Homo sapiens: one gene and its partners. The protein of the gene in region 3 interacts with the protein of the main gene of each other region in a pairwise test. Each region holds a gene or a part of one and is shown on either strand. Other genes may lie near its edges. The genes, in order: BAG3, MAT2A, PELO and MYG1.

The links.
Region 1: the proteins of PELO (region 3) and BAG3 interact in binary tests that used the Homo sapiens proteins (3 or more experiments, as listed by UniProt).
Region 2: the proteins of PELO (region 3) and MAT2A interact in binary tests that used the Homo sapiens proteins (3 or more experiments, as listed by UniProt).
Region 4: the proteins of PELO (region 3) and MYG1 interact in binary tests that used the Homo sapiens proteins (3 or more experiments, as listed by UniProt).

What each region holds. Positions count from the first base shown.
Region 1 is NC_000010.11:119,668,375-119,675,416, forward strand, and holds part of BAG3 (BAG family molecular chaperone regulator 3), read left to right. Parts: intron 1-1,476; coding exon 1,477-1,803; intron 1,804-3,880; coding exon 3,881-4,282; intron 4,283-7,042. UniProt on the Homo sapiens protein: Co-chaperone and adapter protein that connects different classes of molecular chaperones including heat shock proteins 70 (HSP70s), e.g. HSPA1A/HSP70 or HSPA8/HSC70, and small heat shock proteins (sHSPs), e.g. HSPB8.
Region 2 is NC_000002.12:85,542,134-85,545,789, forward strand, and holds the end of MAT2A (S-adenosylmethionine synthase), read left to right. Parts: intron 1-21; coding exon 22-240; intron 241-431; coding exon 432-614; intron 615-767; coding exon 768-901; intron 902-1,536; coding exon 1,537-1,639; 3' UTR 1,640-3,148; downstream 3,149-3,656. UniProt on the Homo sapiens protein: Catalyzes the formation of S-adenosylmethionine from methionine and ATP. The reaction comprises two steps that are both catalyzed by the same enzyme: formation of S-adenosylmethionine (AdoMet) and triphosphate, and subsequent hydrolysis of the triphosphate.
Region 3 is NC_000005.10:52,783,801-52,790,925, forward strand, and holds the start of PELO (protein pelota homolog), read left to right. Parts: upstream 1-4,115; 5' UTR 4,116-4,553; coding exon of another isoform or gene 4,554-4,614; intron 4,615-7,125. Other genes in the region: ITGA1 (integrin alpha-1 precursor), read left to right, coding at 4,554-4,614. UniProt on the Homo sapiens protein: Component of the Pelota-HBS1L complex, a complex that recognizes stalled ribosomes and triggers the No-Go Decay (NGD) pathway.
Region 4 is NC_000012.12:53,302,672-53,307,696, forward strand, and holds the end of MYG1 (MYG1 exonuclease precursor), read left to right. Parts: intron 1-362; coding exon 363-522; intron 523-3,236; coding exon 3,237-3,389; intron 3,390-3,526; coding exon 3,527-3,649; intron 3,650-4,008; coding exon 4,009-4,190; intron 4,191-4,294; coding exon 4,295-4,478; 3' UTR 4,479-4,506; downstream 4,507-5,025. Other genes in the region: AAAS (aladin), read right to left, coding at 4,818-5,025. UniProt on the Homo sapiens protein: 3'-5' RNA exonuclease which cleaves in situ on specific transcripts in both nucleus and mitochondrion. Involved in regulating spatially segregated organellar RNA processing, acts as a coordinator of nucleo-mitochondrial crosstalk.

The DNA of each region.
Region 1 (7,042 bases), on a different chromosome or scaffold from region 3:
GAGATTGTCCCCTGCAAGCTCATAGATTGTTAGCCTTTGGCGTTTGTTCGCCGTGCAGACAGCTGCCTTCGTCAGGAAAGATCACTCCCCTTCTTAAGAGTTGCCTTACACAGATATATGCAAATGACACTTATCAGTAGCTCCCCTCCTGGGAAAGGACCCTCGGTGCTCGGGGACTGTTAGGACTTCTGTTGCGCAGCCCAGCTTGCTGAGAGATGGCATTGCCCAGTGAGTGACTGGCCAGCCTTGTTGTCTGAAATAAGATCTTTCCTGTGGTACATCTGGAACTTGGCCTTCTCAAGGGTCCCAAAATAGCCAGGCCACTGAAGGGAGAACTTCAAGAGAGGACATAAGAGAAGGACCCCAACTGCTCCTTGCCCAAGCAGGCTCTGTTGCGTTGAAGAAAAAGTTCTTCAGTGATACTTGTTAAAGCACAGTCAGGAAGATTTATTCGGGGCCATCAAGATAGGCACAGGGACCACGGCAGTGGGGTCGTGCAGTCATGGGTAGAGACTGGGCACAACTTCAAATACAACACGGGCGATTGGGAATTTATAGTCAAGGAGCAGTGTGGATGGAAAATTAGAAGAGGAAACATCAGGGCTAAGGGTGTTTCTGGCTATGCTGACCAAACAGGATTCTTGCCGAAGACAGGCCAGGGTGATTAGACAGCACCTGGAGGCTGTGGAAGCTGATCAGATAGTGAGGCTGGGGAGGGGGTTTCTGGCTAAACTGACTTAGCAGTGTCTTTTGCTAAAACTTGACTTTACAAGGAAGTGCACAGATGGGCCTAGGAGATGCTTCGGAAGCCTAAGATTTGGTCAAGCAGAGAATCTTTGTCAGTTGGCATCGTTAGGCGACACAGTTAACCCTGGGTGCCCCTCTCTCCCTATGCTGCCTCTGCATCCCTGTCCTTCCCCTTCCTGCAAATTGTTCTAACAATACTCCTGAGGAGGCAGCCCTCGCTCCCCAGCCCACTTCTCTGTAAAGATTCCCAAACTGTGTCCTGTGTTTGGGCCCAGTACAAGCTCTATATTGCTGGGAAATGTGAGGGCCTTTTTGGAAACAGAGACGCTTGCTGTAATGTAGAGGTTGGAGCTGACCCCTGCTCCTGGAGCTCATCTTCTGATCCGGGTCTCTGAAAATGCGGGCATGGGCAGCTCTCCTACACTCACCGCTTCCCTCAGTCACCCAGAAAAGAAACCTGTCTTACCAGTTTGGAGAATTGGGACCTTTCCTTTGCTTAACAGATACTTTTGGCTTTCTCCTGATGCCCCTAATTCCTAAACTGTTGGCCAAATAGCAACCTCTATGGGGTGGGGGGTTTGGAGGGTACAGGGGCTGGGAGCTGGCTGACGCTTTGAGGCCCAAGTCACTCGGGAAGATCACAATGCCAAGCGCCACAGTGTTTCCTCTGCCAGGAGGGTTCACTTCCCAGTTTCTAACCAGCCTGTGTTTCTCCACTTTTTATTTCAGGAGACTCCATCCTCTGCCAATGGCCCTTCCCGGGAGGGCTCTAGGCTGCCGCCTGCTAGGGAAGGCCACCCTGTGTACCCCCAGCTCCGACCAGGCTACATTCCCATTCCTGTGCTCCATGAAGGCGCTGAGAACCGGCAGGTGCACCCTTTCCATGTCTATCCCCAGCCTGGGATGCAGCGATTCCGAACTGAGGCGGCAGCAGCGGCTCCTCAGAGGTCCCAGTCACCTCTGCGGGGCATGCCAGAAACCACTCAGCCAGATAAACAGTGTGGACAGGTGGCAGCGGCGGCGGCAGCCCAGCCCCCAGCCTCCCACGGACCTGAGGTAAGGAGAGGCCAGGCTCACCAGCCTGCTGGGGAGCAAGCCGCTGTGCTTCCCAGGCCGGGCCCATCCCCTCAGGACAGTGCCCTGGGCCAGGCACCTGTTCACATGCAGGGCATCTGGGTCTAGCCTGCAGCATCAGAGGTCACCCAGCAAAGACAGGGTGATGGCCCCACATCATCCCCCAGCATCTCATAGGGCTGTTCTTCAGTGGGGCAGGGCAGGAATCATGTGGCTTCTTTTTGTAGCTAAGGAACGGCTCGGAAGGGCACACTGCAGCCTGCCTGCTCCAGATGCACACAGGTGGAGGGAGCAGAGCTGGGACCGGAAGCCTGGCCTGCCTTCTGGCGCCTAATTTCCATGCTCCTTATTCACACTGGGCTTTCTATTCAGAAGCACAGAGATAGCTGTGCATTATTTTGTTCAGTTCAATGCTTATGGATAAATCTTAACCGCTTGTGGAGCTATGTTGACAGGAAAATGAGACCCCATGCCTGCCCTCACCGTGCACCACAGTTTCAAAAGAAATAAGGAGTCAGGAAGGCAGCTGCTTTAAGACAGCATTTTAATCCTGAAGCCAAACATCTCAGGGATATGTCAATGGATTCTGTGCATTAATAGCTAAAAAATAGTTCTTAATCTGGTTCTTAGCTGAGATTTGAGGCATTCCTAGTAGGATTCCTAAGCAGTAAGTCCTCTCATTTTCCTGTCTGCACATCATCCTGTGGTGTGTGCCAGCGTTGTTCCTGGGCACAAACTCCCGTGTCCTATCTGCACCCTGAGTCATGCTTGCCTCTCAGCTCCGTCTGAATCTGTTCAGCTTCACACCTGCTTGAGAGTGAAAGTTACAGTTAATGTGGGATACCTTTTTTCTTTTCTTAGAGAGGTAGTACCTGGCTGAGGCAGGTGGATCACTTGAGGCCAGGAATTCAAGACCAGCCTGGCTAACACGGTGAAACCCCGTCTCTACAAAAAATACAAAAATTAGCCGGGCATGGTGGCACATTCCTGTAATCCCAGCTACTCAGGAGGCTGAGGCAGGAGAATTGCTTAAACCCAGGAGGCAGAGGTTGCAGTGAGCCGAGATCGCACCACTGCACTCCAGCCTAGGTGATAGAGCGAGACTGTCTCAAAAATAAAAAAATAAGTAATGCCTATATTTATAATGGTTTTGCTGCAAGAAATCAAAGTGACACATAAATGCGAGACATCTTCACAAATTTAGGCTAACAAAGCACTTAGAAGAGGAAATGCTCTCAATTTCGAGGTGAATAGAAGGTGGCCCAGCAGGGAAAGGTGCTTGACCTGCCTTGGGCCACACGGGATGCTGGCAGCTCCCAGTTGCTCAGCCGAGTTCTCTGTAGATTGGCAGAGAAAGGGTAGTGGGGACAACACATCCCTTGTATGAGCGCTTCCTGTGTGCTGGCCTGGGGCTGAGGCACATGCCCAGGTGACTGACCTCATCTTCAGAGCAGCCCAGTGAGGGAGGGGCACTCTTCCTATATTTCAAATGAAGCTTAGAAAATGATTGAATTACTAGGAATTTGAACATAGGCCCCTTGATTCCAAAGCCTTCAGTCTTTGTTGTGTGTGTGTGTGTTTTGTTTTGTTTTGTTTTGTTTTGCTTTGTTTGAGGTGGAGTCTCTCTCTGTTGCCCAGACTGGAGTGCAGTGGTGTGATCTCAAATCACTGCAACCTCTGCCTCCTAGGTTCAAGCAATTCCCCTGCCTCAGCCTCCTGAGTAGCTGGCACTACAGGCATGCGCCGCCACACCCAGCTAATTTTTGTATTTTTGGTAGAGATGGGGTTTCACCATGTTGGCCAGGCTGCTCTTGAACTCCTGACCTCAGGTGGTCCACTCACCTAGGCCTCCCAAAGTGCTGGGATTACAGGTGTGAGCCACCGCGCCCAGCCCCAGAGCTCTCAGTCTTAACCGCACATTTTGAAAATTGAAAATTACAGATAGGAGGTCTTACAATATGGATTGCCCTGAGGAGGTGCACAGCAGAAGGCGTGGTCAGGATGCCAAGCCAGGGGAGTCATTTGTGGGGTCATGCCCTCTACCCTGTGTCTCTTGCAGCGGTCCCAGTCTCCAGCTGCCTCTGACTGCTCATCCTCATCCTCCTCGGCCAGCCTGCCTTCCTCCGGCAGGAGCAGCCTGGGCAGTCACCAGCTCCCGCGGGGGTACATCTCCATTCCGGTGATACACGAGCAGAACGTTACCCGGCCAGCAGCCCAGCCCTCCTTCCACCAAGCCCAGAAGACGCACTACCCAGCGCAGCAGGGGGAGTACCAGACCCACCAGCCTGTGTACCACAAGATCCAGGGGGATGACTGGGAGCCCCGGCCCCTGCGGGCGGCATCCCCGTTCAGGTCATCTGTCCAGGGTGCATCGAGCCGGGAGGGCTCACCAGCCAGGAGCAGCACGCCACTCCACTCCCCCTCGCCCATCCGTGTGCACACCGTGGTCGACAGGCCTCAGGTACGGGAAGTTAGTCGTCAGCAGACTGGTTATGGTGGTATGTCTCCAGGGGTGCAGGAGCTCTGTGGGTGCCCTGGGTTCCCCCTTCATCCCTGCCTATTTAACATGCGTGTACCTACAGGCAAGTGAGATTCGAGAAATTGCTAGGTATTAACAGAAATGCAGGACAGTTGCTCAGGCTGTGAACCCTCCGCACTCTGCAGCTTTTGCTGGGCTGATCATTGTGCATTGCGGCTGACTTAGAGCAGACGAAACAGCTTGGCAGAACTTACATACCTGGGACCAGCTTCCTTAGTGTCCACCACACCCTTTCAGGGCTCTTCACACCCCCATCCACACCGCAGCCACAGCCTCACCTTGGGTGTAGGCAGTGTGTCACCTTCCACTCAGTTACCCACTCCACTCTGCAGGCCCATTCTGCTCATTCCCACCCCTGTGCCTTTGCCCATGCTGAACCCGCTCCCTGAAATGCCCGCACAGTATAGGTTCTCCCTGTCCTCTGAGGGACGAGCCAGTCTTGTCTCCTCCATGAAGCCTACTCATCCTTCTCATCTCATGATGCCTCATATGAGTCCCTTAATGAGAACTCCCAACTTGTATGAGTTCAACATGTCATTATTCGGGGCATTTCAGAAGTGTTCATTTTATCTCTTCAGCTTAGGGCTGAGCCTGACCACAGGGCCCATGTCTTAACCCCCCTCCTCCCTTTGTAATCAGGTACCATGTGGTCTGGCTGAGGCATCAGCCAGCTATGGCGGATTGGAAGCCGTGCTGGCCTGGGGAAGGTTGTAGGCAGGGGTCTGGTTATCTTCCAGTGGAGACACAAGGTGCAGGTTCCTGGAAGAGGATGTCATTTAGTTTAAGCAGCTCACAGCTTAGCAGCAGGACAGTCAGCAGCCCTGGGCCCCCTGTGGCTGCAACTTGAGCAGCTGAATGCTACAGTTTTTAAAAAGGAAAGCCCCCCGTGAACAAATGTGGGATATTCTTTCATTACAAATGGTCACACTGGCCAGGGCCCTGGAATAGAGCACCCTCATCTTAAAATGTTGTTTTATTTGGAAATAATTTCAATCTCATAGAAGAGTTGTGTGAATCATACAGAGCCCCACATATACTTCATCCAGTTCACTGTTTGTCAATATGTCTGCATTCGCCTTGTCATTTCTTCTCTCGTATATTATTGATGTGTTTTAACTGTTTGAAAATTAATTGCAGACATCATGTCCCTTTTCCCCTGAATAGCAAATATTTTCCTAAGAGGAAGACATTCTCGTTCATAACCATGGTAGACTTACCAGATTCAGGAAATTTCACATTCTTACAACATTATTATCCAGTACATTTTTGAATCTTTTTTATAGCAGTTTGCCCCCACTTCCAGGATGTCTTCCAGGACTGAAACAAGGATCATGAGCACCGCATTTAGATGCAACTTCTCTTCAGTCTTCCCTCAGCCTTTCTTTGCTTTCACGGCCTTGACGGTTTTGAAGAACACAGGCTGTGGAACACCCTCTCTAAAGTGTTTCTAAAGTCACTTCTTACACAGCCATTGCTGTTAGAACCTAGGAGGGGTGCGTGGTTGGGTTGTGAGTGGTAAGGGCCAAAGTTGCGAATGTCTGCATTGGCGAAAGAGATTTGATGGAAAAGGAGGTTGCTGGAGTGTAGACAGCTACATCGATCCATACTTGGGTTCAGCAATCCTAGGAGGGTCCCATTTGTAGAGAGAGGGATATTTTCTCCACATCATTCCCATGTGTTTCTCATCATCAGTGAAATGATATTTCATCCTGTTCTTACCATTAACCGTGTTTGTGGTGACCTCCCTTTTAGAGCTGATTCAAAGTTCCCTTTTGGGAGGCTTTCCAGGATTTCACCAAACTGAACGTTATAGTGGAATTGAGTGTTTTAAGCTGGGAATAGTTTAGAAATAATATAGTCCAGTTATTTCCCAGTTGATGAAATTAGGGTGAGATTTTAAAAGAAGTGTTAGATATTCACTTACATGAATAAGAGCCAAGATAAGGCCAAGCGCAGTGGCTCACGCCTGTAATCCTGTAATCCTAGCACTTTGGGAGGCCGAGGCGGGGGTATCACTTAAGGTCAGGAGTTCAAGACTAGCCTGGCCAACATGGTGAAACCCCATCTCTACTAAAAATACAAAAAAAAAAGTTAACCAGGCATGTTGGTGGGCGCCTGTAATCCCAGCTACTCGGGAGGCTGGGGTGGGAGGATTGCTTGAACTTGGGAGGCAGAGGTTGCAGTGAACTGAGATCACACCACTGCACACTCCAGCCTGGGTGACAGAGCGAGGCTCCGTCTCAAAAACAAAAACAAAAACAAAAAGCGTCAAGATATTTTTGCTTTGAGCATAGCTCATTAAAAAATATATGGCTTACTAGGCGTGGTGGCTCACACCTATAATCCTAGCACTTTGGGAGGCCGAGGTGGGCAGATTGCTTGAGCTTAGAAATTCAAGACCAGCCTGGGCAGCATGGTGAAACCCTGTCTCTACAAAAAAATAGAAAAATTAGCCAGGCATGATGGTATGTGCCTGTAGTTGCAACTAATCATGAAGCTAAGGTGAGAGGATCACTTGAGGCCAGAAGGTTGAGGCTGCATTGAGCTGTGATAGCCCCGCTGCACTCCAGCCTGGGCAACAGAGTGAGACCCTGTCCCCCACAAAAATCTATATATCTATATGGCTGTAGTTTATAGTCACAGGAAAACCTGTGCAGCCAGAGGTTAGCACAGAGGCGCTGT
Region 2 (3,656 bases), on a different chromosome or scaffold from region 3:
ATGACCTGTGTTGCCTTCAAGGTTACTGTGCAGTATATGCAGGATCGAGGTGCTGTGCTTCCCATCAGAGTCCACACAATTGTTATATCTGTTCAGCATGATGAAGAGGTTTGTCTTGATGAAATGAGGGATGCCCTAAAGGAGAAAGTCATCAAAGCAGTTGTGCCTGCGAAATACCTTGATGAGGATACAATCTACCACCTACAGCCAAGTGGCAGATTTGTTATTGGTGGGCCTCAGGTAATGTCATTTTGTTGCATTTTTCTGGATTTTTGATGGTTACTTAAAATTTTGGCTACTACATTTTTTTCAGGCTTTCTGAAACCTACATGTGAATCATCGGAGGATATTTGCTGAATGAATTCAGAATAGGCAACCTAATCCACTTGGAAAGCACTAGGCGTAAAGTAACTTAAATCCTGTAATTTCAGGGTGATGCTGGTTTGACTGGACGCAAAATCATTGTGGACACTTATGGCGGTTGGGGTGCTCATGGAGGAGGTGCCTTTTCAGGAAAGGATTATACCAAGGTCGACCGTTCAGCTGCTTATGCTGCTCGTTGGGTGGCAAAATCCCTTGTTAAAGGAGGTCTGTGCCGGAGGGTTCTTGTTCAGGTATACACTCTTTATATAACGAACGATTAAAAGTCATGTAAGTGGGAGGGTATTTAGTAGTAATCTACTTAACTACTTGTTTTATACCAACGTATTATACAAGTATATGGGTCTTTGCAATCACTGATTCTTACGACATTTGAATCCTTTTAGGTCTCTTATGCTATTGGAGTTTCTCATCCATTATCTATCTCCATTTTCCATTATGGTACCTCTCAGAAGAGTGAGAGAGAGCTATTAGAGATTGTGAAGAAGAATTTCGATCTCCGCCCTGGGGTCATTGTCAGGTAAAGATGGTAAAGCCTGTTGCTAGTCAAGTATTGAGGGTGTTGGGTGTGTGTGTATATACTTAAGGCTGAGGAGGTGAAGGTGTGAAGGAAGACTCCTCAAATGGGAATATATTTTAATTCCTGGAACAGTTTTGAACTGCTGCCTTAGTGAAGACTTAGTTATTTGAGAAATTTAAAATTACGGTGCTCCATGGCTTAGGCTAACCACTCTAGAGAATGTTCCAGATTTGATATTTGAGCTTTGTGCTCTTCTACTTAAGGGTGTTAAGAAAATAGAGATAAAGTGGGTTGCTCAAGGTTTGTTGCAATGTAAAAACCATGGTAGGGTGTGGGCGGCGGGACCTTGGTAAGTATTGTGTGATCTCAGGTGAGCTTTTTGACAATTGAAATTTCTCAGAATAATGACAAGTTTTCGTATTTGTTGAGCCAGGGACGGAAAAACAACTATAGTTACTAATAAGGACTGTGCAAGGAGTTTGGACACCAGGGAAGTAACACTTTTGCCACAAATTTTTTTCCTAGCATATCCCAGAGAACTCATTTGCCAGAGCTCTTGAAAATGAGTCTTGCTGATTGTTTTGCTTTATTTTAATTTAATGCTACATATTAAGTTACGGACTTGTATATTCCAGGGATCTGGATCTGAAGAAGCCAATTTATCAGAGGACTGCAGCCTATGGCCACTTTGGTAGGGACAGCTTCCCATGGGAAGTGCCCAAAAAGCTTAAATATTGAAAGTGTTAGCCTTTTTTCCCCAGACTTGTTGGCGTAGGCTACAGAGAAGCCTTCAAGCTCTGAGGGAAAGGGCCCTCCTTCCTAAATTTTCCTGTCCTCTTTCAGCTCCTGACCAGTTGCAGTCACTCTAGTCAATGACATGAATTTTAGCTTTTGTGGGGGACTGTAAGTTGGGCTTGCTATTCTGTCCCTAGGTGTTTTGTTCACCATTATAATGAATTTAGTGAGCATAGGTGATCCATGTAACTGCCTAGAAACAACACTGTAGTAAATAATGCTTTGAAATTGAACCTTTGTGCCCTATCACCCAACGCTCCAAAGTCATAATTGCATTGACTTTCCCCACCAGATGCTGAAAATGTCCTTGTGATGTGCACGTAAAGTACTTGTAGTTCCACTTATAGCCTCTGTCTGGCAATGCCACAGCCCTGTCAGCATGAATTTGTAATGTCTTGAGCTCTATTATGAATGTGAAGCCTTCCCCTTATCCTCCCTGTAACTTGATCCATTTCTAATTATGTAGCTCTTTGTCAGGGAGTGTTCCCTATCCAATCAATCTTGCATGTAACGCAAGTTCCCAGTTGGAGCTCCAGCCTGACATCAAAAAAGGCAGTTACCATTAAACCATCTCCCTGGTGCTTATGCTCTTAATTGCCACCTCTAACAGCACCAAATCAAAATCTCTCCACTTTCAGCTGTCTTTTGGAGGACGTACGTAATAAGGTTTTAATTTAGTAAACCAATCCTATGCATGGTTTCAGCACTAGCCAAACCTCACCAACTCCTAGTTCTAGAAAAACAGGCACTTGGCAGCCTTGTGATGTCATACAGAGAAGTCACAGGGCAGTACCTGAGGGTCTGTAGGTTGCACACTTTGGTACCAGATAACTTTTTTTTTTCTTTATAAGAAAGCCTGAGTACTCCACACTGCACAATAACTCCTCCCAGGGTTTTAACTTTGTTTTATTTTCAAAACCAGGTCCAATGAGCTTTCTGAACAGCTGGTGTAGCTACAGAGAAACCAGCTTCCTTCAGAGAGCAGTGCTTTTGGCGGGGAGGAGGAAATCCCTTCATACTTGAACGTTTTCTAATTGCTTATTTATTGTATTCTGGGGTATGGCGTAAGTACAGAGAAGCCATCACCTCAGATGGCAGCTTTTAAAAGATTTTTTTTTTTTCTCTCAACACCATGATTCCTTTAACAACATGTTTCCAGCATTCCCAGGTAGGCCAAGGTGTCCTACAGAAAAACCTTGGGTTAGACCTACAGGGGGTCTGGCTGGTGTTAACAGAAGGGAGGGCAGAGCTGGTGCGGCTGGCCATGGAGAAAGCTGACTTGGCTGGTGTGGTACAGAGAAGCCAGCTTGTTTACATGCTTATTCCATGACTGCTTGCCCTAAGCAGAAAGTGCCTTTCAGGATCTATTTTTGGAGGTTTATTACGTATGTCTGGTTCTCAATTCCAACAGTTTAATGAAGATCTAAATAAAATGCTAGGTTCTACCTTAACTGTGTCTGTTACTCATTTGTTAAAGTGCTTTGGGGCCATAGGTACGTGCCTATAATCCCAACACTTTGAAAGGCTGAGGTAGGAGGATCACTTTAACATAGAAGTTGGAGGCTGTAGCGAACCATTATCAAGCCACTGCACTCCAGCCTGGGTGACTGAGACTTTGGCTCTTAAAAAATGCTATCATATGAATAACCTGAGAATACTATATGTGTATCTTTAACCTTGAATTGTAATCCATAATTAGCCATAATTCAGGAAAATAACCTCAATCCCTAGACCCAGTGGGTGGGCATTTTTTAAAAGCCTAAGCAAGATTTAGTCCTCCTAGTCCACTTAAGCCAAAATTCATGTGTCCTTATTGCAGCAGCCATTCAATGCCATTTTTAAGTTTTCAACTAAGGTTGAGGGCTTCAAACCATTGAAGGCATAAAAACCGCTAAAAGTATTAACCTGGAAGTGGTAATGTCTATCTAAAGTCCTGGCAATTTAAGCCTATTAATCTGCA
Region 3 (7,125 bases):
GTTGGCTCATGGTGAAGTTTAAGTTCCATATCACTGTGACTTTATTTTGGTCAGAGAGGAAGCAATCATAGGTTCTCAAGGTATATCAACAACAACTATTAGGATAATTTCACTAGACTGTTTAATTTAATAGGCTTAAAATGAAATATGCCAATGTTACAATTGAGCACAAAACTACTTATTTTCTCTTCCTAGTTACAAGTGAAAGAAATTAATGAACAGCAGGTTTGCAGTGGAATAACAACTGTTGTATCCATTTTTGCCTCTGCAGAACATAGCCCTGGAGCCCAATATATGCCAGAAAATTAAAAATTATTGAACTAGACTAAGTTTTCCATATGAGTTAGCTTTGTGAGTTAGCCCCACTGTTTTGGGGTATATTCCCCTAAGTGCTTACATACTAAAACTTAAAAATCCAAATCTTCATAAAATCTTTGTAAAAACGGAAGCAGTTCTGTACACTTCCACCTACCCCTAACACCTGAGAGTGGAGGGGATGGGGTTGGGGTAAAACCACACTTTGATGCTACCTTAAAATGTATTTAAAATCTCATATTTGACTTTTAAAAAGAAAACATGATTTAAAAATATTTCTTATAAAAATCTGTTATTTTAGCAAACAACAATTTTTAAATTATTTATTTTTGAGTAAAATCAGCACCACCCCCACTACCCAGGTGGGAGTACCTTATTTATCCTGTAGCTTTGAGAACCTATAATCTTACTGCTAAAGAACCCTGGCATACATTAGACACGGAGTTCTAGAACCTCTTCTATTCCCCCAACCTCTTAGCGGAATGTTCTTCTCTTGTAAAAAAATTAAAAAAAAAAAAAAAAAAAAAAAACCTCTGACGGCCAGCCAATTTGAAAAGCAAATTCATGTGAACGTTATAATGGGTTCTGATGTCTTCATGCATACCCATTTTATAGAACTATCTTCAAGATAATTCCCTAATCCAAGGTAAATATTTTTAAAGCGAGGATTCCAGAAATAATAATAGGAGTTGATGGAGATATTTTTAGGCGGACATTAAAGTTCCTCTTCTGATGGCCATCAAATTTCACCACTTCCTACAGGGTCTACCACACGCAGAGCCTGCCCTGTTTACATGGTCTGTTTAATACCAATTCTTCTATTTACAGAGAAGAATGATTCATACTAACCGAGCACTTACTTTAATCCAGGCATTGTGCTAAATGCTCAGAGGCTCGGTTCATTTAATCCCCACAGCAATTCTCAGACCAGAAGTAGTACAGTATTTTCATTCCCACTTTACATTTGAGAAAACTGAGGCTTAGATAAACTTGATGACGTTTCCCAAATCACACAGCTACTATATTGTGGTTCCAGGACTTGAGTCCAAGCAGCGTAACTCCAGAACCTTACTTACTCTAGTTACTTTACTCAGTATATTAGATTAACTCCAAGAAGAATACTTTGGTTTTAAGTATATGTTTTTCTTTTTGAGATTATTGGTTAATAATCTCAATTACTCTTGCCTCATTTCATAGACATCCACTTTCCAAATTCTTAATCAGTTCAGTCTCTAATCTTTCAGTGCAGCCATCCCCAACCGTTTTGGCAGAGAGACCGGTTTCATAGAAGGCATTTTTTCCACAGACCAGGGGTAGGGGAAACGGTTTCAAGATGATTCAAACACATTACATTCATTGTGCACTTTATTCCCATTATAATTATGTTATAATATATAATGAAGTAATTATAAAACTCACCATAATGTAGAATCAGTGGGAGCCCTCAGCCTGTTTTCCTGCAACTAGACGTTTTCATCTGGGGATGATGGGAGACAGTGACAGATCATCAGGCATTAGATTCTCATAAGAAGCGTGTGCAGTTCACAATAAGGTTCATGCTCCTACTCATGCTTCCAAACCCTTAAAGAGATCTGATCAAATCAAGTCTCATTTAAAATAGAAAAGTATGTAGTATAAAGTCTAGAGCTGAAACATTTGTCATCAAGTGTCTCATATCAATAACTAGTTTGTGACTCTGGGCAAGTTTCTGTCTTCTCTAAATCTTTACTCAATGACATGTCTTTCTGTCAGTCAGAATAAAATTGGTTAAGAAAATAACCGGCTTGACATTTATTTGTATTTGGGTTTATTGAAGTTCAGAAAATAAGCACTGATTCTAAAATTAATTCTCTAACCATAGTTATCTCTCAGTCTCTACATTTGTATTGACTAGACATATAAAAGATTCATAAATATGTAAACATGTAAACATAAAATTTGTAACTTGTGAAAATTAATTGTAACAATATCACTGTTAGTGATGGTTATCACCAATAATTTGTAAGTCCTAGAGGAAATAAAAATATTAAAATTGAAATTATATATTAGCCCCCAGAAGAAAGGTAAATTTCCCAGTAATTGTAAACTTGAACATATTATATGTTAACCCTACTTTATTTCAATATTTTACAATTTCTTTTTGTTTTTTCTAATGAAATATATTGCAATTTGCTAAAATGCCATATATGTATTTGCATATGTATGTATATGCTGTACATATATATGTACACATACATACATACACATGATTGTGTATATATAGACACACTATTATATGTTTTTGAAAACTAAGCAATTTGGAGAAATATCATTGGGAAAGTACTTACTATGATTTTTAAATGTCTACGAATTAATCAATATCTATTGGTTACTGTTCAAAGCACAGAGAGTCATACTGAGAGGCATAAGACATAACTGATACTACCAACAGGGAAACGAGATATACACAGGAAATGAATTCCTTGGCAGGGTATGAGAGCATTGAACACAAACAAAGGAACTTAAGTAAAGTCCAATGGGATTGAACTGTGACCCAACATAATACAATTTTTCTAGAGACTCATTTGTGTAAATTTGAAGACAGAACTGAGAAATGACATTATAAAAACTAAAAACGGGAGAACGAGATTTTTAATGTATTTACTAAATAGTGAATCAGTTCAGATACATAATAGAAAAGGAATTTCTTGATTAATGGGTCAACATACTGAGATCTGATGGCCTTCAACCTCCTTGGGTCTGCCCACCCCATTTTTGACGCTCCTTAAACTTCTTCAACTTTTGTCTTCTCCAGCTTTTAGTTGCTGTGATCCTCTATCTGGCAATGTATCCAGTGAACCCTGTGGGCTTCTTCCTTCCTGTCCCTCGTGTTACCTGTTCTGTGCTACCTGTGTTGCGTTCTGCTCAACGAACCCTCCTTTGGGTGGCACTCTTGTCCTGCCTAGCCCTAGTTCTGCTAGAGATGCTCAATTAGTTGTTGAGTTGAAGAATTGAATTGAACTGTTTCCCTCAGATTCCTCTAAACACAAATCCACTTATTCTTTCTGTCTTTGAAATTCTCAAAACCGCTAAGACACAGCTATTTTGAAAATAGCCAGCATTGGTTGAAGCTAGGGTGAATATGGCTTTTGACTCAGAGAGGTTGTTCAACTCACCAGGAAAGGGAAGCATTGCAAGTTCCTAAGCACTTCTGGACTCTTAATGCATTTTCACTCGTGAAAGTTTCAAGCAAGAAAAAAATAAAGTAGTGCCCCGAGTTCTTTATTAGATTCAATTACCAGCGTACAAACATCCTAATTCACTTAAACAAAATAGCCCACACACATTCCATTTCCAAGGAGGCTGCTTTTCTTCCTCTCTTCCCTTCTCGCTCTCCCTCTTACTGTTTTTCCTCCGTCTTGCTTCTCCTTTTCTCCCCTTATCCTAGTTATCTCAAAGAAAAGCTTATCTGCAACCACCCTTTAACCACGAATTACCATAAACGAAGCAACCCCCCCACCCCCCCATAAGCGAAAGCAAAGCCCTCAGTGGAGCCTGTCGGGGTGGTGGGGACGCCCCCTTTCGTGCAAAACGACTTCACGGTGAATTTCAAGTGTCCGCAGGGGATGGAAGGGGGGATTCCAGATCCTCGCATTTTCACAGACGGCCTAATCCCTCTGCGCAATGGACCCGGGAAAGCTGCCTCCCGTTAAGGGCGCCCAGGCACTGTCAAAGCGCCCTCCCTGCCCGGGCCGGGAGAAGTAAGGGGTGTGAAGGCGGAGCCACTGGGCTGGCAACACCCTCCCGAAGGTCCAGCCCTTACCCGCCTTCCTACCACCTTAGGGGATTTGGCCCGGAGAACGAGATCACCCTCTCAATGAAAGGCAGATGTCCCTTTAAGGTTTGCTTCTACAGCCCGTGGACTTTAGCCTAAACACGGACCCGCGAAGCTGGCTTTATTTGTCCATGTCTCGGACAGAGCCTGGGAAGCTGCCAGTGAGATTTCAGAGACCAAGAGCGCGAAGGGGCGGGCGATGTGGCAATCCGTCTGGGATGTGAAAAGCGTGGAGCGCATTTAGAGGAATTCGACGAAAACACAGGAAATCACTCCTCTCCCGCTCCTGGGCGCCGCTGCCACTGGGGCAGAGGACTGGGAACCGCGGCAGCGGGATAAGTGGCCCAGCCAGAGAGCGCAGCTCCCGCGCCCGGTCCTGCCCTGCGAACCAGCGCGGCCCCCTGGCGCTGAGGCTGCTCCGGCCATGGCCCCTCGGCCCCGCGCCCGCCCAGGGGTCGCTGTCGCCTGCTGCTGGCTCCTCACTGGTGAGCGACTCGCTTTTCTCTGAGCATCTCCTGCTCGCGGGCTTGGGGCTTGGAGCGGGGAGGGAGGTCCTCAGAGCCATGGGCCAGATAGGAAGAGAGAGCGCCCATCCACTTTCGGGCATTCCAGGTACTCAGGCCAGGCTACGGGGCAGGCAGGAGTTTCGCGTTCTGGTTTTGATATGAATTAGTTTTCGTGTCTCTCCAAAGTCCTTCACCCTAGGAGTAGGAGTGAGGCAGCACTGAAAACCTTAGAAGGTAGAATTCACTTTTAAAATTAAAGTTGTTTTTACAATACACATTGTATATTAGGACTTTGCTGAATATTTCCTCCCCTCCACCCTTTTTTATGGCATGGGATGGGAGGGTGATGCTTATAGGGCGCCTGATACATATGCAAAATTCCTACCCTCGGGTTGTTCCAGAGTGGACATTATTGAATTTTCTTGCTGTCTACTATTTAGGCTTTTTTCCCATGCAGAACAAGAAAAGGCAGGGATGCAAGACGAAACTGCCACTTGTTCCAAAATGATGTTTCTATGTCAGCACCCAAGAGGAGGGATATTTTGAAACGTAGAAAGGAATGGTGAACATTTTCTCTGTAAATATCACAGGGCAGTCTACTTTTAAGATGCAAAATATAGTATTGTTATTTGTACATAAATGTGTATTTTTAAGGAGGGGACTTAAAAACATAGTGGAAATGCAAAGTTGTATCCAATTTAGAAAAAGCTTGAAATATAGCATTTTGTAAGATTTTCCCAATAATGAACTCATGGTCAGATCTTTTTTACCAGTTACTGATTGGGGTGGGGGAAAGTTGAAATGGTGAAAAATGGAAGAAGGTGGGGGGAAAGTGTATCGATAGAATCTCTGTGTGAAAGAAAATCACCTTATTAATGGGTTAATTAACAGCTGGCTTTAACATATCATTGATATTCAATTGTTCAGTGTTTTTACTGCTGGCATGGTTATTAGTACTAGTTAATTTAGCATTTTTACCACTAAAAACAGGGTAGAGCCAGCTAGTTTAGACCTGCCTTAGATGGCCAAGCATTGTTAAGTTTTATGAAGATGATTTAGAAGTTGATTATCAGCAAGCAGAGCTTTTTTCAGAAGGGAGGTAATGTAAAGAGAGTTAATAATTAGCTACTGGCTTTTCATCCAAACATTTCCCACTACTCAGGAAATGTCCAATAATCCAAACAGTGGTAACTGCTGAACAGCATTATAGCCGGTGAGTGGTTTAACTTACCAGCTACTGCCACTACTTTTTACACATATTTGACCTATGATTCTTCTCCAACTCAAATTTTTTTAGATTGTATTTTGTTGTTTTTGTGCAAAATCTGAATACAGTAGTTTACTATCCAAGTTGTACTTTTTCATTCTACCAAATAAGCAGTCTCTAGAGTAGAAATGATGAAATGAGGTTTGCGTATCCTCTAAAAAGACAAGAGTGAAACTTGAAGTAACAGAGAAGTTTAACAAGTTACAATTTCATATATATGTTGGTGAAATATACATTGGTGAATCCAGGAAGAGACTTAAAATATTTAGAAACCTTGTGTGCACTATATTTATGCCCATTTCGCAACACATGAGGGATCTGAAATTGGACTGCTTTCCCATCAGTCATTATATTCTGTAGGCTCTTCTTTAGCAATCTCTTTCAGATTTGGAAACTTCTCATCAATTCAGAGTCCGTTTGTAACCTGGGGACTCATCACCATACTTATCCATGCACACTACTGTAGAGCTTATCTTTCTGTCTTCAATTTGAACCCAACTTCCAGTCTACCCTCCTAATACATCATTTTTACTATATCTGTTTTTAGTCAAAAATCTTTGGTGGTTCTTTGTTGCCTTTAAGATAAAATCCAAAATTCTCAACTGACTGCCCTAATCCAACACCCTCTCTCTATCTCCTACTACTCCTATGTCAGTTTCTTATTGCTGTTGTAACAACTTGCCATAGATCACCAGCTTAAAACAACATAAATTTACTATTGTACAGTTCTGTAGGTCAGAAGTATCACTGGGCTAGAATCAAGATGTCACCAGGGCTGCATTTCTTCTGGAGGTTCTAGGGGAAAATCAGTTTCCCTGTTTTCACCAGCCTCTGGCCACCACCTGCATTCTTGGCCTGTGGCCCCTTTCTCCATCTTCAACCGAGCAGGGTAGAATCTTCAGATCTTCCCCCATGACTCTGCTTTATCATCACATCTCCTTCTCAGACTCTGACCCTACTACCTTCCTAAGGATCCTTGTAATTACAATGTGCCTACCAGAATAATCTCCTCATCTCAAGATCTTTAATTTAATTACATCTTCCAAGTCCCTTTTACCATCTAAGATAACATATTCACAGGTTCCAGGCATTAGGTCATGGATATCTTTGGGAGACCATTATTCTGCCTACCACAACCCATAAGCATAAACTGTCCATTATAGCCAATCACTTTTCTTTACTTTCTCCATAATCCTCATGTTCATTTTGCCACTGAAGATATG
Region 4 (5,025 bases), on a different chromosome or scaffold from region 3:
CTCAGCCATCATTCATGTTGTTCTCTCTGCTTGGAATGCTTTTTCTCTTTCACCCCTTGTCTATCTGGTGGACACCCACTAATTCATCTTTCAGAACTGACCTGAAGGCTCTCCTCTGAACCCTTTCCTCATCCCTTCCTTCCTTTCCCTTGTCTCGTCTAGTGAGAGTACTCAGGGGGTTGTGTTTGTCGGCCTCCGGCAGATGAATCTGAAAGCAAGGACAGTGTCTTGGTTTTTTATCCTTAATGTCTAATAAAACATAAAATGTGGCAGATAGGAAGCATTGAGTTAACCATTGAATGAATGCATGGAGACTCTAGCCAAGGTCCCTCACCTCAGCCCCACCTCCCTATGCTCCTCAGGTCTTTCACAGAGACCATGAGCTCCCTGTCCCCTGGGAAGCCGTGGCAGACCAAGCTGAGCAGTGCGGGACTCATCTATCTGCACTTCGGGCACAAGCTGCTGGCCCAGTTGCTGGGCACTAGTGAAGAGGACAGCATGGTGGGCACCCTCTATGACAAGGTGGGGACCTGAGGACAGAGATGCCCCCCACATGCATTTCCAGCAGGCCGCCTGGGAGCAGTGCTCACACAGCACTCAGCACTGGGCCTCGGGTCAGGGTTCCTGGCCTATAGCAGGCCCAACACTCATCCTCTCCCTCAGTCAGGCTCATCTCACAAGGGAATGGTGATACCTCCCCTGTCTACATCCTGGGGTGGTTGTGAGAAGTGGATGCTGTAATATATGGGGAAGGGCTTTGAAAACCATAAAGCAGCATGGCCCCGTCTTTTTATTGACACACACAAACAGCAATTGCTCAGCACCTTTGGGTAAACAGAGGGGAGGCTGCTTATGTGTGGAAGCAGATGGCTCAGAGGTTCTGGCTGCCCTGAAGGTTGAGGGGAGTGTATGTTAGGCACCACTGTAGTTCACTAGTGGCACATAAATTGGGAAGCTCAGCTGAGAAGAGTTTTATTATGAAACTGTCTTTGGATTCCACCAGTGTCCCCTGCAAGCAGCTTCCTGCTCTTAGGGAAAGAATATGGCTAGTGGCCCTGGCATGCAAGTCAGGTCGCACAGTACTGAGGACACTTACTTGTTTACAAGTCAAAGCCCAGGTTCAGTCAGCTGTATTTCTTGCAGGTAGGCTGTTGAATTCAGTTCTCAGTTTTTTTGTTGTTTTTTGTTTTGAGATGGAGTCTTGCTCTGTCGCCCAGGCTGGAGTGCAGTGGCGCAATCTTGGCTCACTGCAAGCTCCGCCTCCCGGGTTCACGCCATTCTCCTGCCTCAGCCTCCCGAGTAGCTGGGACTACAGGCGCCCATCACCATGCCCGGCTAATTTTTTGTATTTTTAGTAGAGGTGGGGTTTCACCGTGTTAGCCAGGATGGTCTTGATCTCCTGACCTCGTGATCTGCCCACCTCAGCCTCCCAAAGTGCTGGGATTACAGGTCTGAGCCACTGCACCCGGCCCATCAGTTCTCAGTTTTAGCTTGCCCATTTTCTGCCCTCTGTAACTATAGAGTTTTTGGAATATCAAGATTTTAGACTGCCTGGGTCAGTTTTCCCTTCCACTGCTGAAGGGTTTCTAAACAACTGACTAAATTTTTGTTGTTGTTTTTTTTTGTTTTTTTGAGACGGGGTCTTGCTCTGTCATCCAGGCTGGAGTGCAGTGGCACAATCTCAGCTCACTGCTACCTCCGCCTCCTGGGTTCAAGCGATTCTCCTGCCTCAGCCTCCCAAGTAGGTGAGATTACAGGCGCCTGCCACCACGCCTGGCTAATTTTTTATTTTTAGTAGAAACGGGGTTTCACCGTGTTAGCCAGGCTGGTCTCAAACTCCTGACCTCAAGTAACGCACCCACCTTGGCCTCCCAAAGTGCTGGGATTACAGGCGTGAGCCACTAATCCCAGCAACAATTGACTAAATTTAACCCGTATTTTTTTTTGAGAGACTGTTGCCCAGGTTGGAGTCCAGTGGTGCCATCATGGCTTGCTGCTGCTTTGAACTCCTGGGCTCAAGCAGTCTTCCCACCTCAGCCCCCCAAGTAGCTGAGACTACAGGTGCATGCCACCATGCCTGGCTAATTATATATCTTAATTTTTTTGTAGAGAGGGTCTTGCTATGCTGCCCAGGCTGGACTCAAAAACTCCTGGGCTCAAGTGATCCTCCCACCTCAGCCTAAACCCATGTTTTTTTTTTTTTTTTTTTTTTTTTGAGACGGAGTCTCGCTCTGTCGCCCAGGCTGGAGTGCAGTGGCGGGATCTCGGCTCACTGCAAGCTGCGCCTCCCAGGTTCACGCCATTGTCCTGCCTCAGCCTCCCAAGTAGCTGGGACTACAGGCGCCCGCCACTACGCCCGGCTAATTTTTTGTATTTTTAGTAGAGACGGGGTTTCACCGTTTTAGCCGGGATGGTCTCGATCTCCTGACCTCGTGATCCGCCCGCCTCGGCCTCCCAAAGTGCTGGGATTACAGGCGTGAGCCACCGCGCCCGGCCTAAACCCATGTTTTAACTGAGCATCAGGTTGGGATCCAAACCAAGAAGAGCTGGGCATAGGAGTTACTTTCTCAGTGCTCTGAGAGTAGCACTTTTCTACATACCACAGGTGTACTGTTATGGAGGCCTATTTTGTAGGGTAATTTTGCATAAAGTTTCTGCCCCGAGACTCTTGAGGCATTATCCTACCATTTATTCAGACCCAGGAGACAACTGCTGATGTCATGAGGCACATTATGGGCTTCCCTGGAACCCTAACCCAGCAACCAGCTTTTGGTGTCTAGTCTCACACTCATTTTCTCCCACTTGACTTGTGTTCTCAACCAGAGCCGCTCCTGCACCTCATTAACCGTGTCACTGAATACCTACTCACCCCACCTGGAGATTTACCAGCCTTCAGCCACAGGGACCCACTCCCACAGAGAGCCTCTAGCACCTAGAGACCTTCCTTGTTCAAAAGTTAGCAGTCCCCTCCCTACACGTGTTGGCTTTGGTTTGGGCTTTGTGCAGCAGAATGAGCATGGATTAGAAATCAGGTGATCTGAATTCCAGTCACAGCACAACGAGCTGTCTGAGCTTCAGCGAGCTGCTGAACTTGCCAATTCTCCCTTTTCTCATCCAGTTAATGTTGAGAGATCCTCACAGGGCTGAAAGAGTGTGTATGAACATACTTTGAATCATGTAAGATTTCACATAAGTAGCAGGTAGCCTCAAGAAGGTTTCCCCTGCTGCTGCCTTAGATGTATGAGAACTTTGTGGAGGAGGTGGATGCTGTGGACAATGGGATCTCCCAGTGGGCAGAGGGGGAGCCTCGATATGCACTGACCACTACCCTGAGTGCACGAGTTGCTCGACTTAATCCTACCTGGAACCACCCCGACCAAGACACTGAGGTAAGGTGGCCTGGGAGGAGACCCGGAGACCTGTAAGAACCTTGGGTGGGGGGAAAATGGGAGCATTTGCTCCTCCTAAGCCCTAGCAAATTCCAAGTTTGGGCCAGCATCATGGTTCTAATTCTCATCATTCCCAGGCAGGGTTCAAGCGTGCAATGGATCTGGTTCAAGAGGAGTTTCTGCAGAGATTAGATTTCTACCAACACAGCTGGCTGCCAGCCCGGGCCTTGGTGGAAGAGGCCCTTGCCCAGCGATTCCAGGTATAGGCCTTGGAGGAGGCATTATGGCTTGAGGATTACTGACTGCCAATCAACAGGAACTCCTGCTTCTTCTACCCTAAACCCTGGAGTGCAGTGGCAGACAACCTCAACCTCTTAGGCTCAAGCAGTCCTCCCACCTCAGCCTCCTGAGTAGCTGGGACTACAGGCACACACCACCTCACCCAGCTAATTTTTGTATTTTTTGTAGAGACAGGGTCTTACTTTGTTGCCTAGGCTAGTCTCAAATTCCTGGGCTCAACTGATCCTCCCACCTCAGCCTCCCAAAATGTTGTGACTACAAACATGATCACCATGCCCAGCCTACCTTAAACCTTCTAGCTATGCTCTCCCTCTTTCAGGTGGACCCAAGTGGAGAGATTGTGGAACTGGCGAAAGGTGCATGTCCCTGGAAGGAGCATCTCTACCACCTGGAATCTGGGCTGTCCCCTCCAGTGGCCATCTTCTTTGTTATCTACACTGACCAGGCTGGACAGTGGCGAATACAGTGTGTGCCCAAGGAGCCCCACTCATTCCAAAGCCGGTGAGGCCCTAGGGAACCACTCTGCAGACCTTCAGGCTTGTCTCAGCCTTGTTAAGAGAAGGCTGCCAACTCTGACCCCTGCTGTACTCCCTCTTTCTGCCCAGGCTGCCCCTGCCAGAGCCATGGCGGGGTCTTCGGGACGAGGCCCTGGACCAGGTCAGTGGGATCCCTGGCTGCATCTTCGTCCATGCAAGCGGCTTCACTGGCGGTCACCACACCCGAGAGGGTGCCTTGAGCATGGCCCGTGCCACCTTGGCCCAGCGCTCATACCTCCCACAAATCTCCTAGTCTAATAAAACCTTCCATCTCATACTGACCCAGTCCTTGACTTATTCTTGCCCTACACCATTCCAGAAACTTGTGAAAAGTGAAACAACTATTTATGTGTAAGACCCTGTGCTAGATATATTTTCTTCACAGTAACTTCTCAGCCTTGCTTCCCAAATCATTTGAAACCATAGTTTCTAGGATTAAATAACGTGACCAAATTCACAAGTGGCTAAAAAGTGACAGAACAGGGCCTTAACCCAAAGTCCATGCTTTTTTCCCCTACTGTACCCCACTGCAACTCCCTGGAAAAGACAGACTGGTAACTGAGTGGAAAACAAAAGGAAAACTTATTTATTCTTAGAGGTGGGAATGTGGGGAGTGGGGCAGAACAGGTGGTGGCCCTGGGAGAGGGTCCCAAGGGGCAGAGGTTGGGGATGTCTCAGTAAAGAGGGGCAGGTCATGAATAGAGCCTCCACCCCCAGCAGGGGGTTCCTGGGCCCGCCCAAGCACTGGGCTAAAACGTGGAAACTGGGCATTGACAAAGTACAGCGGGATGTGGGCAATT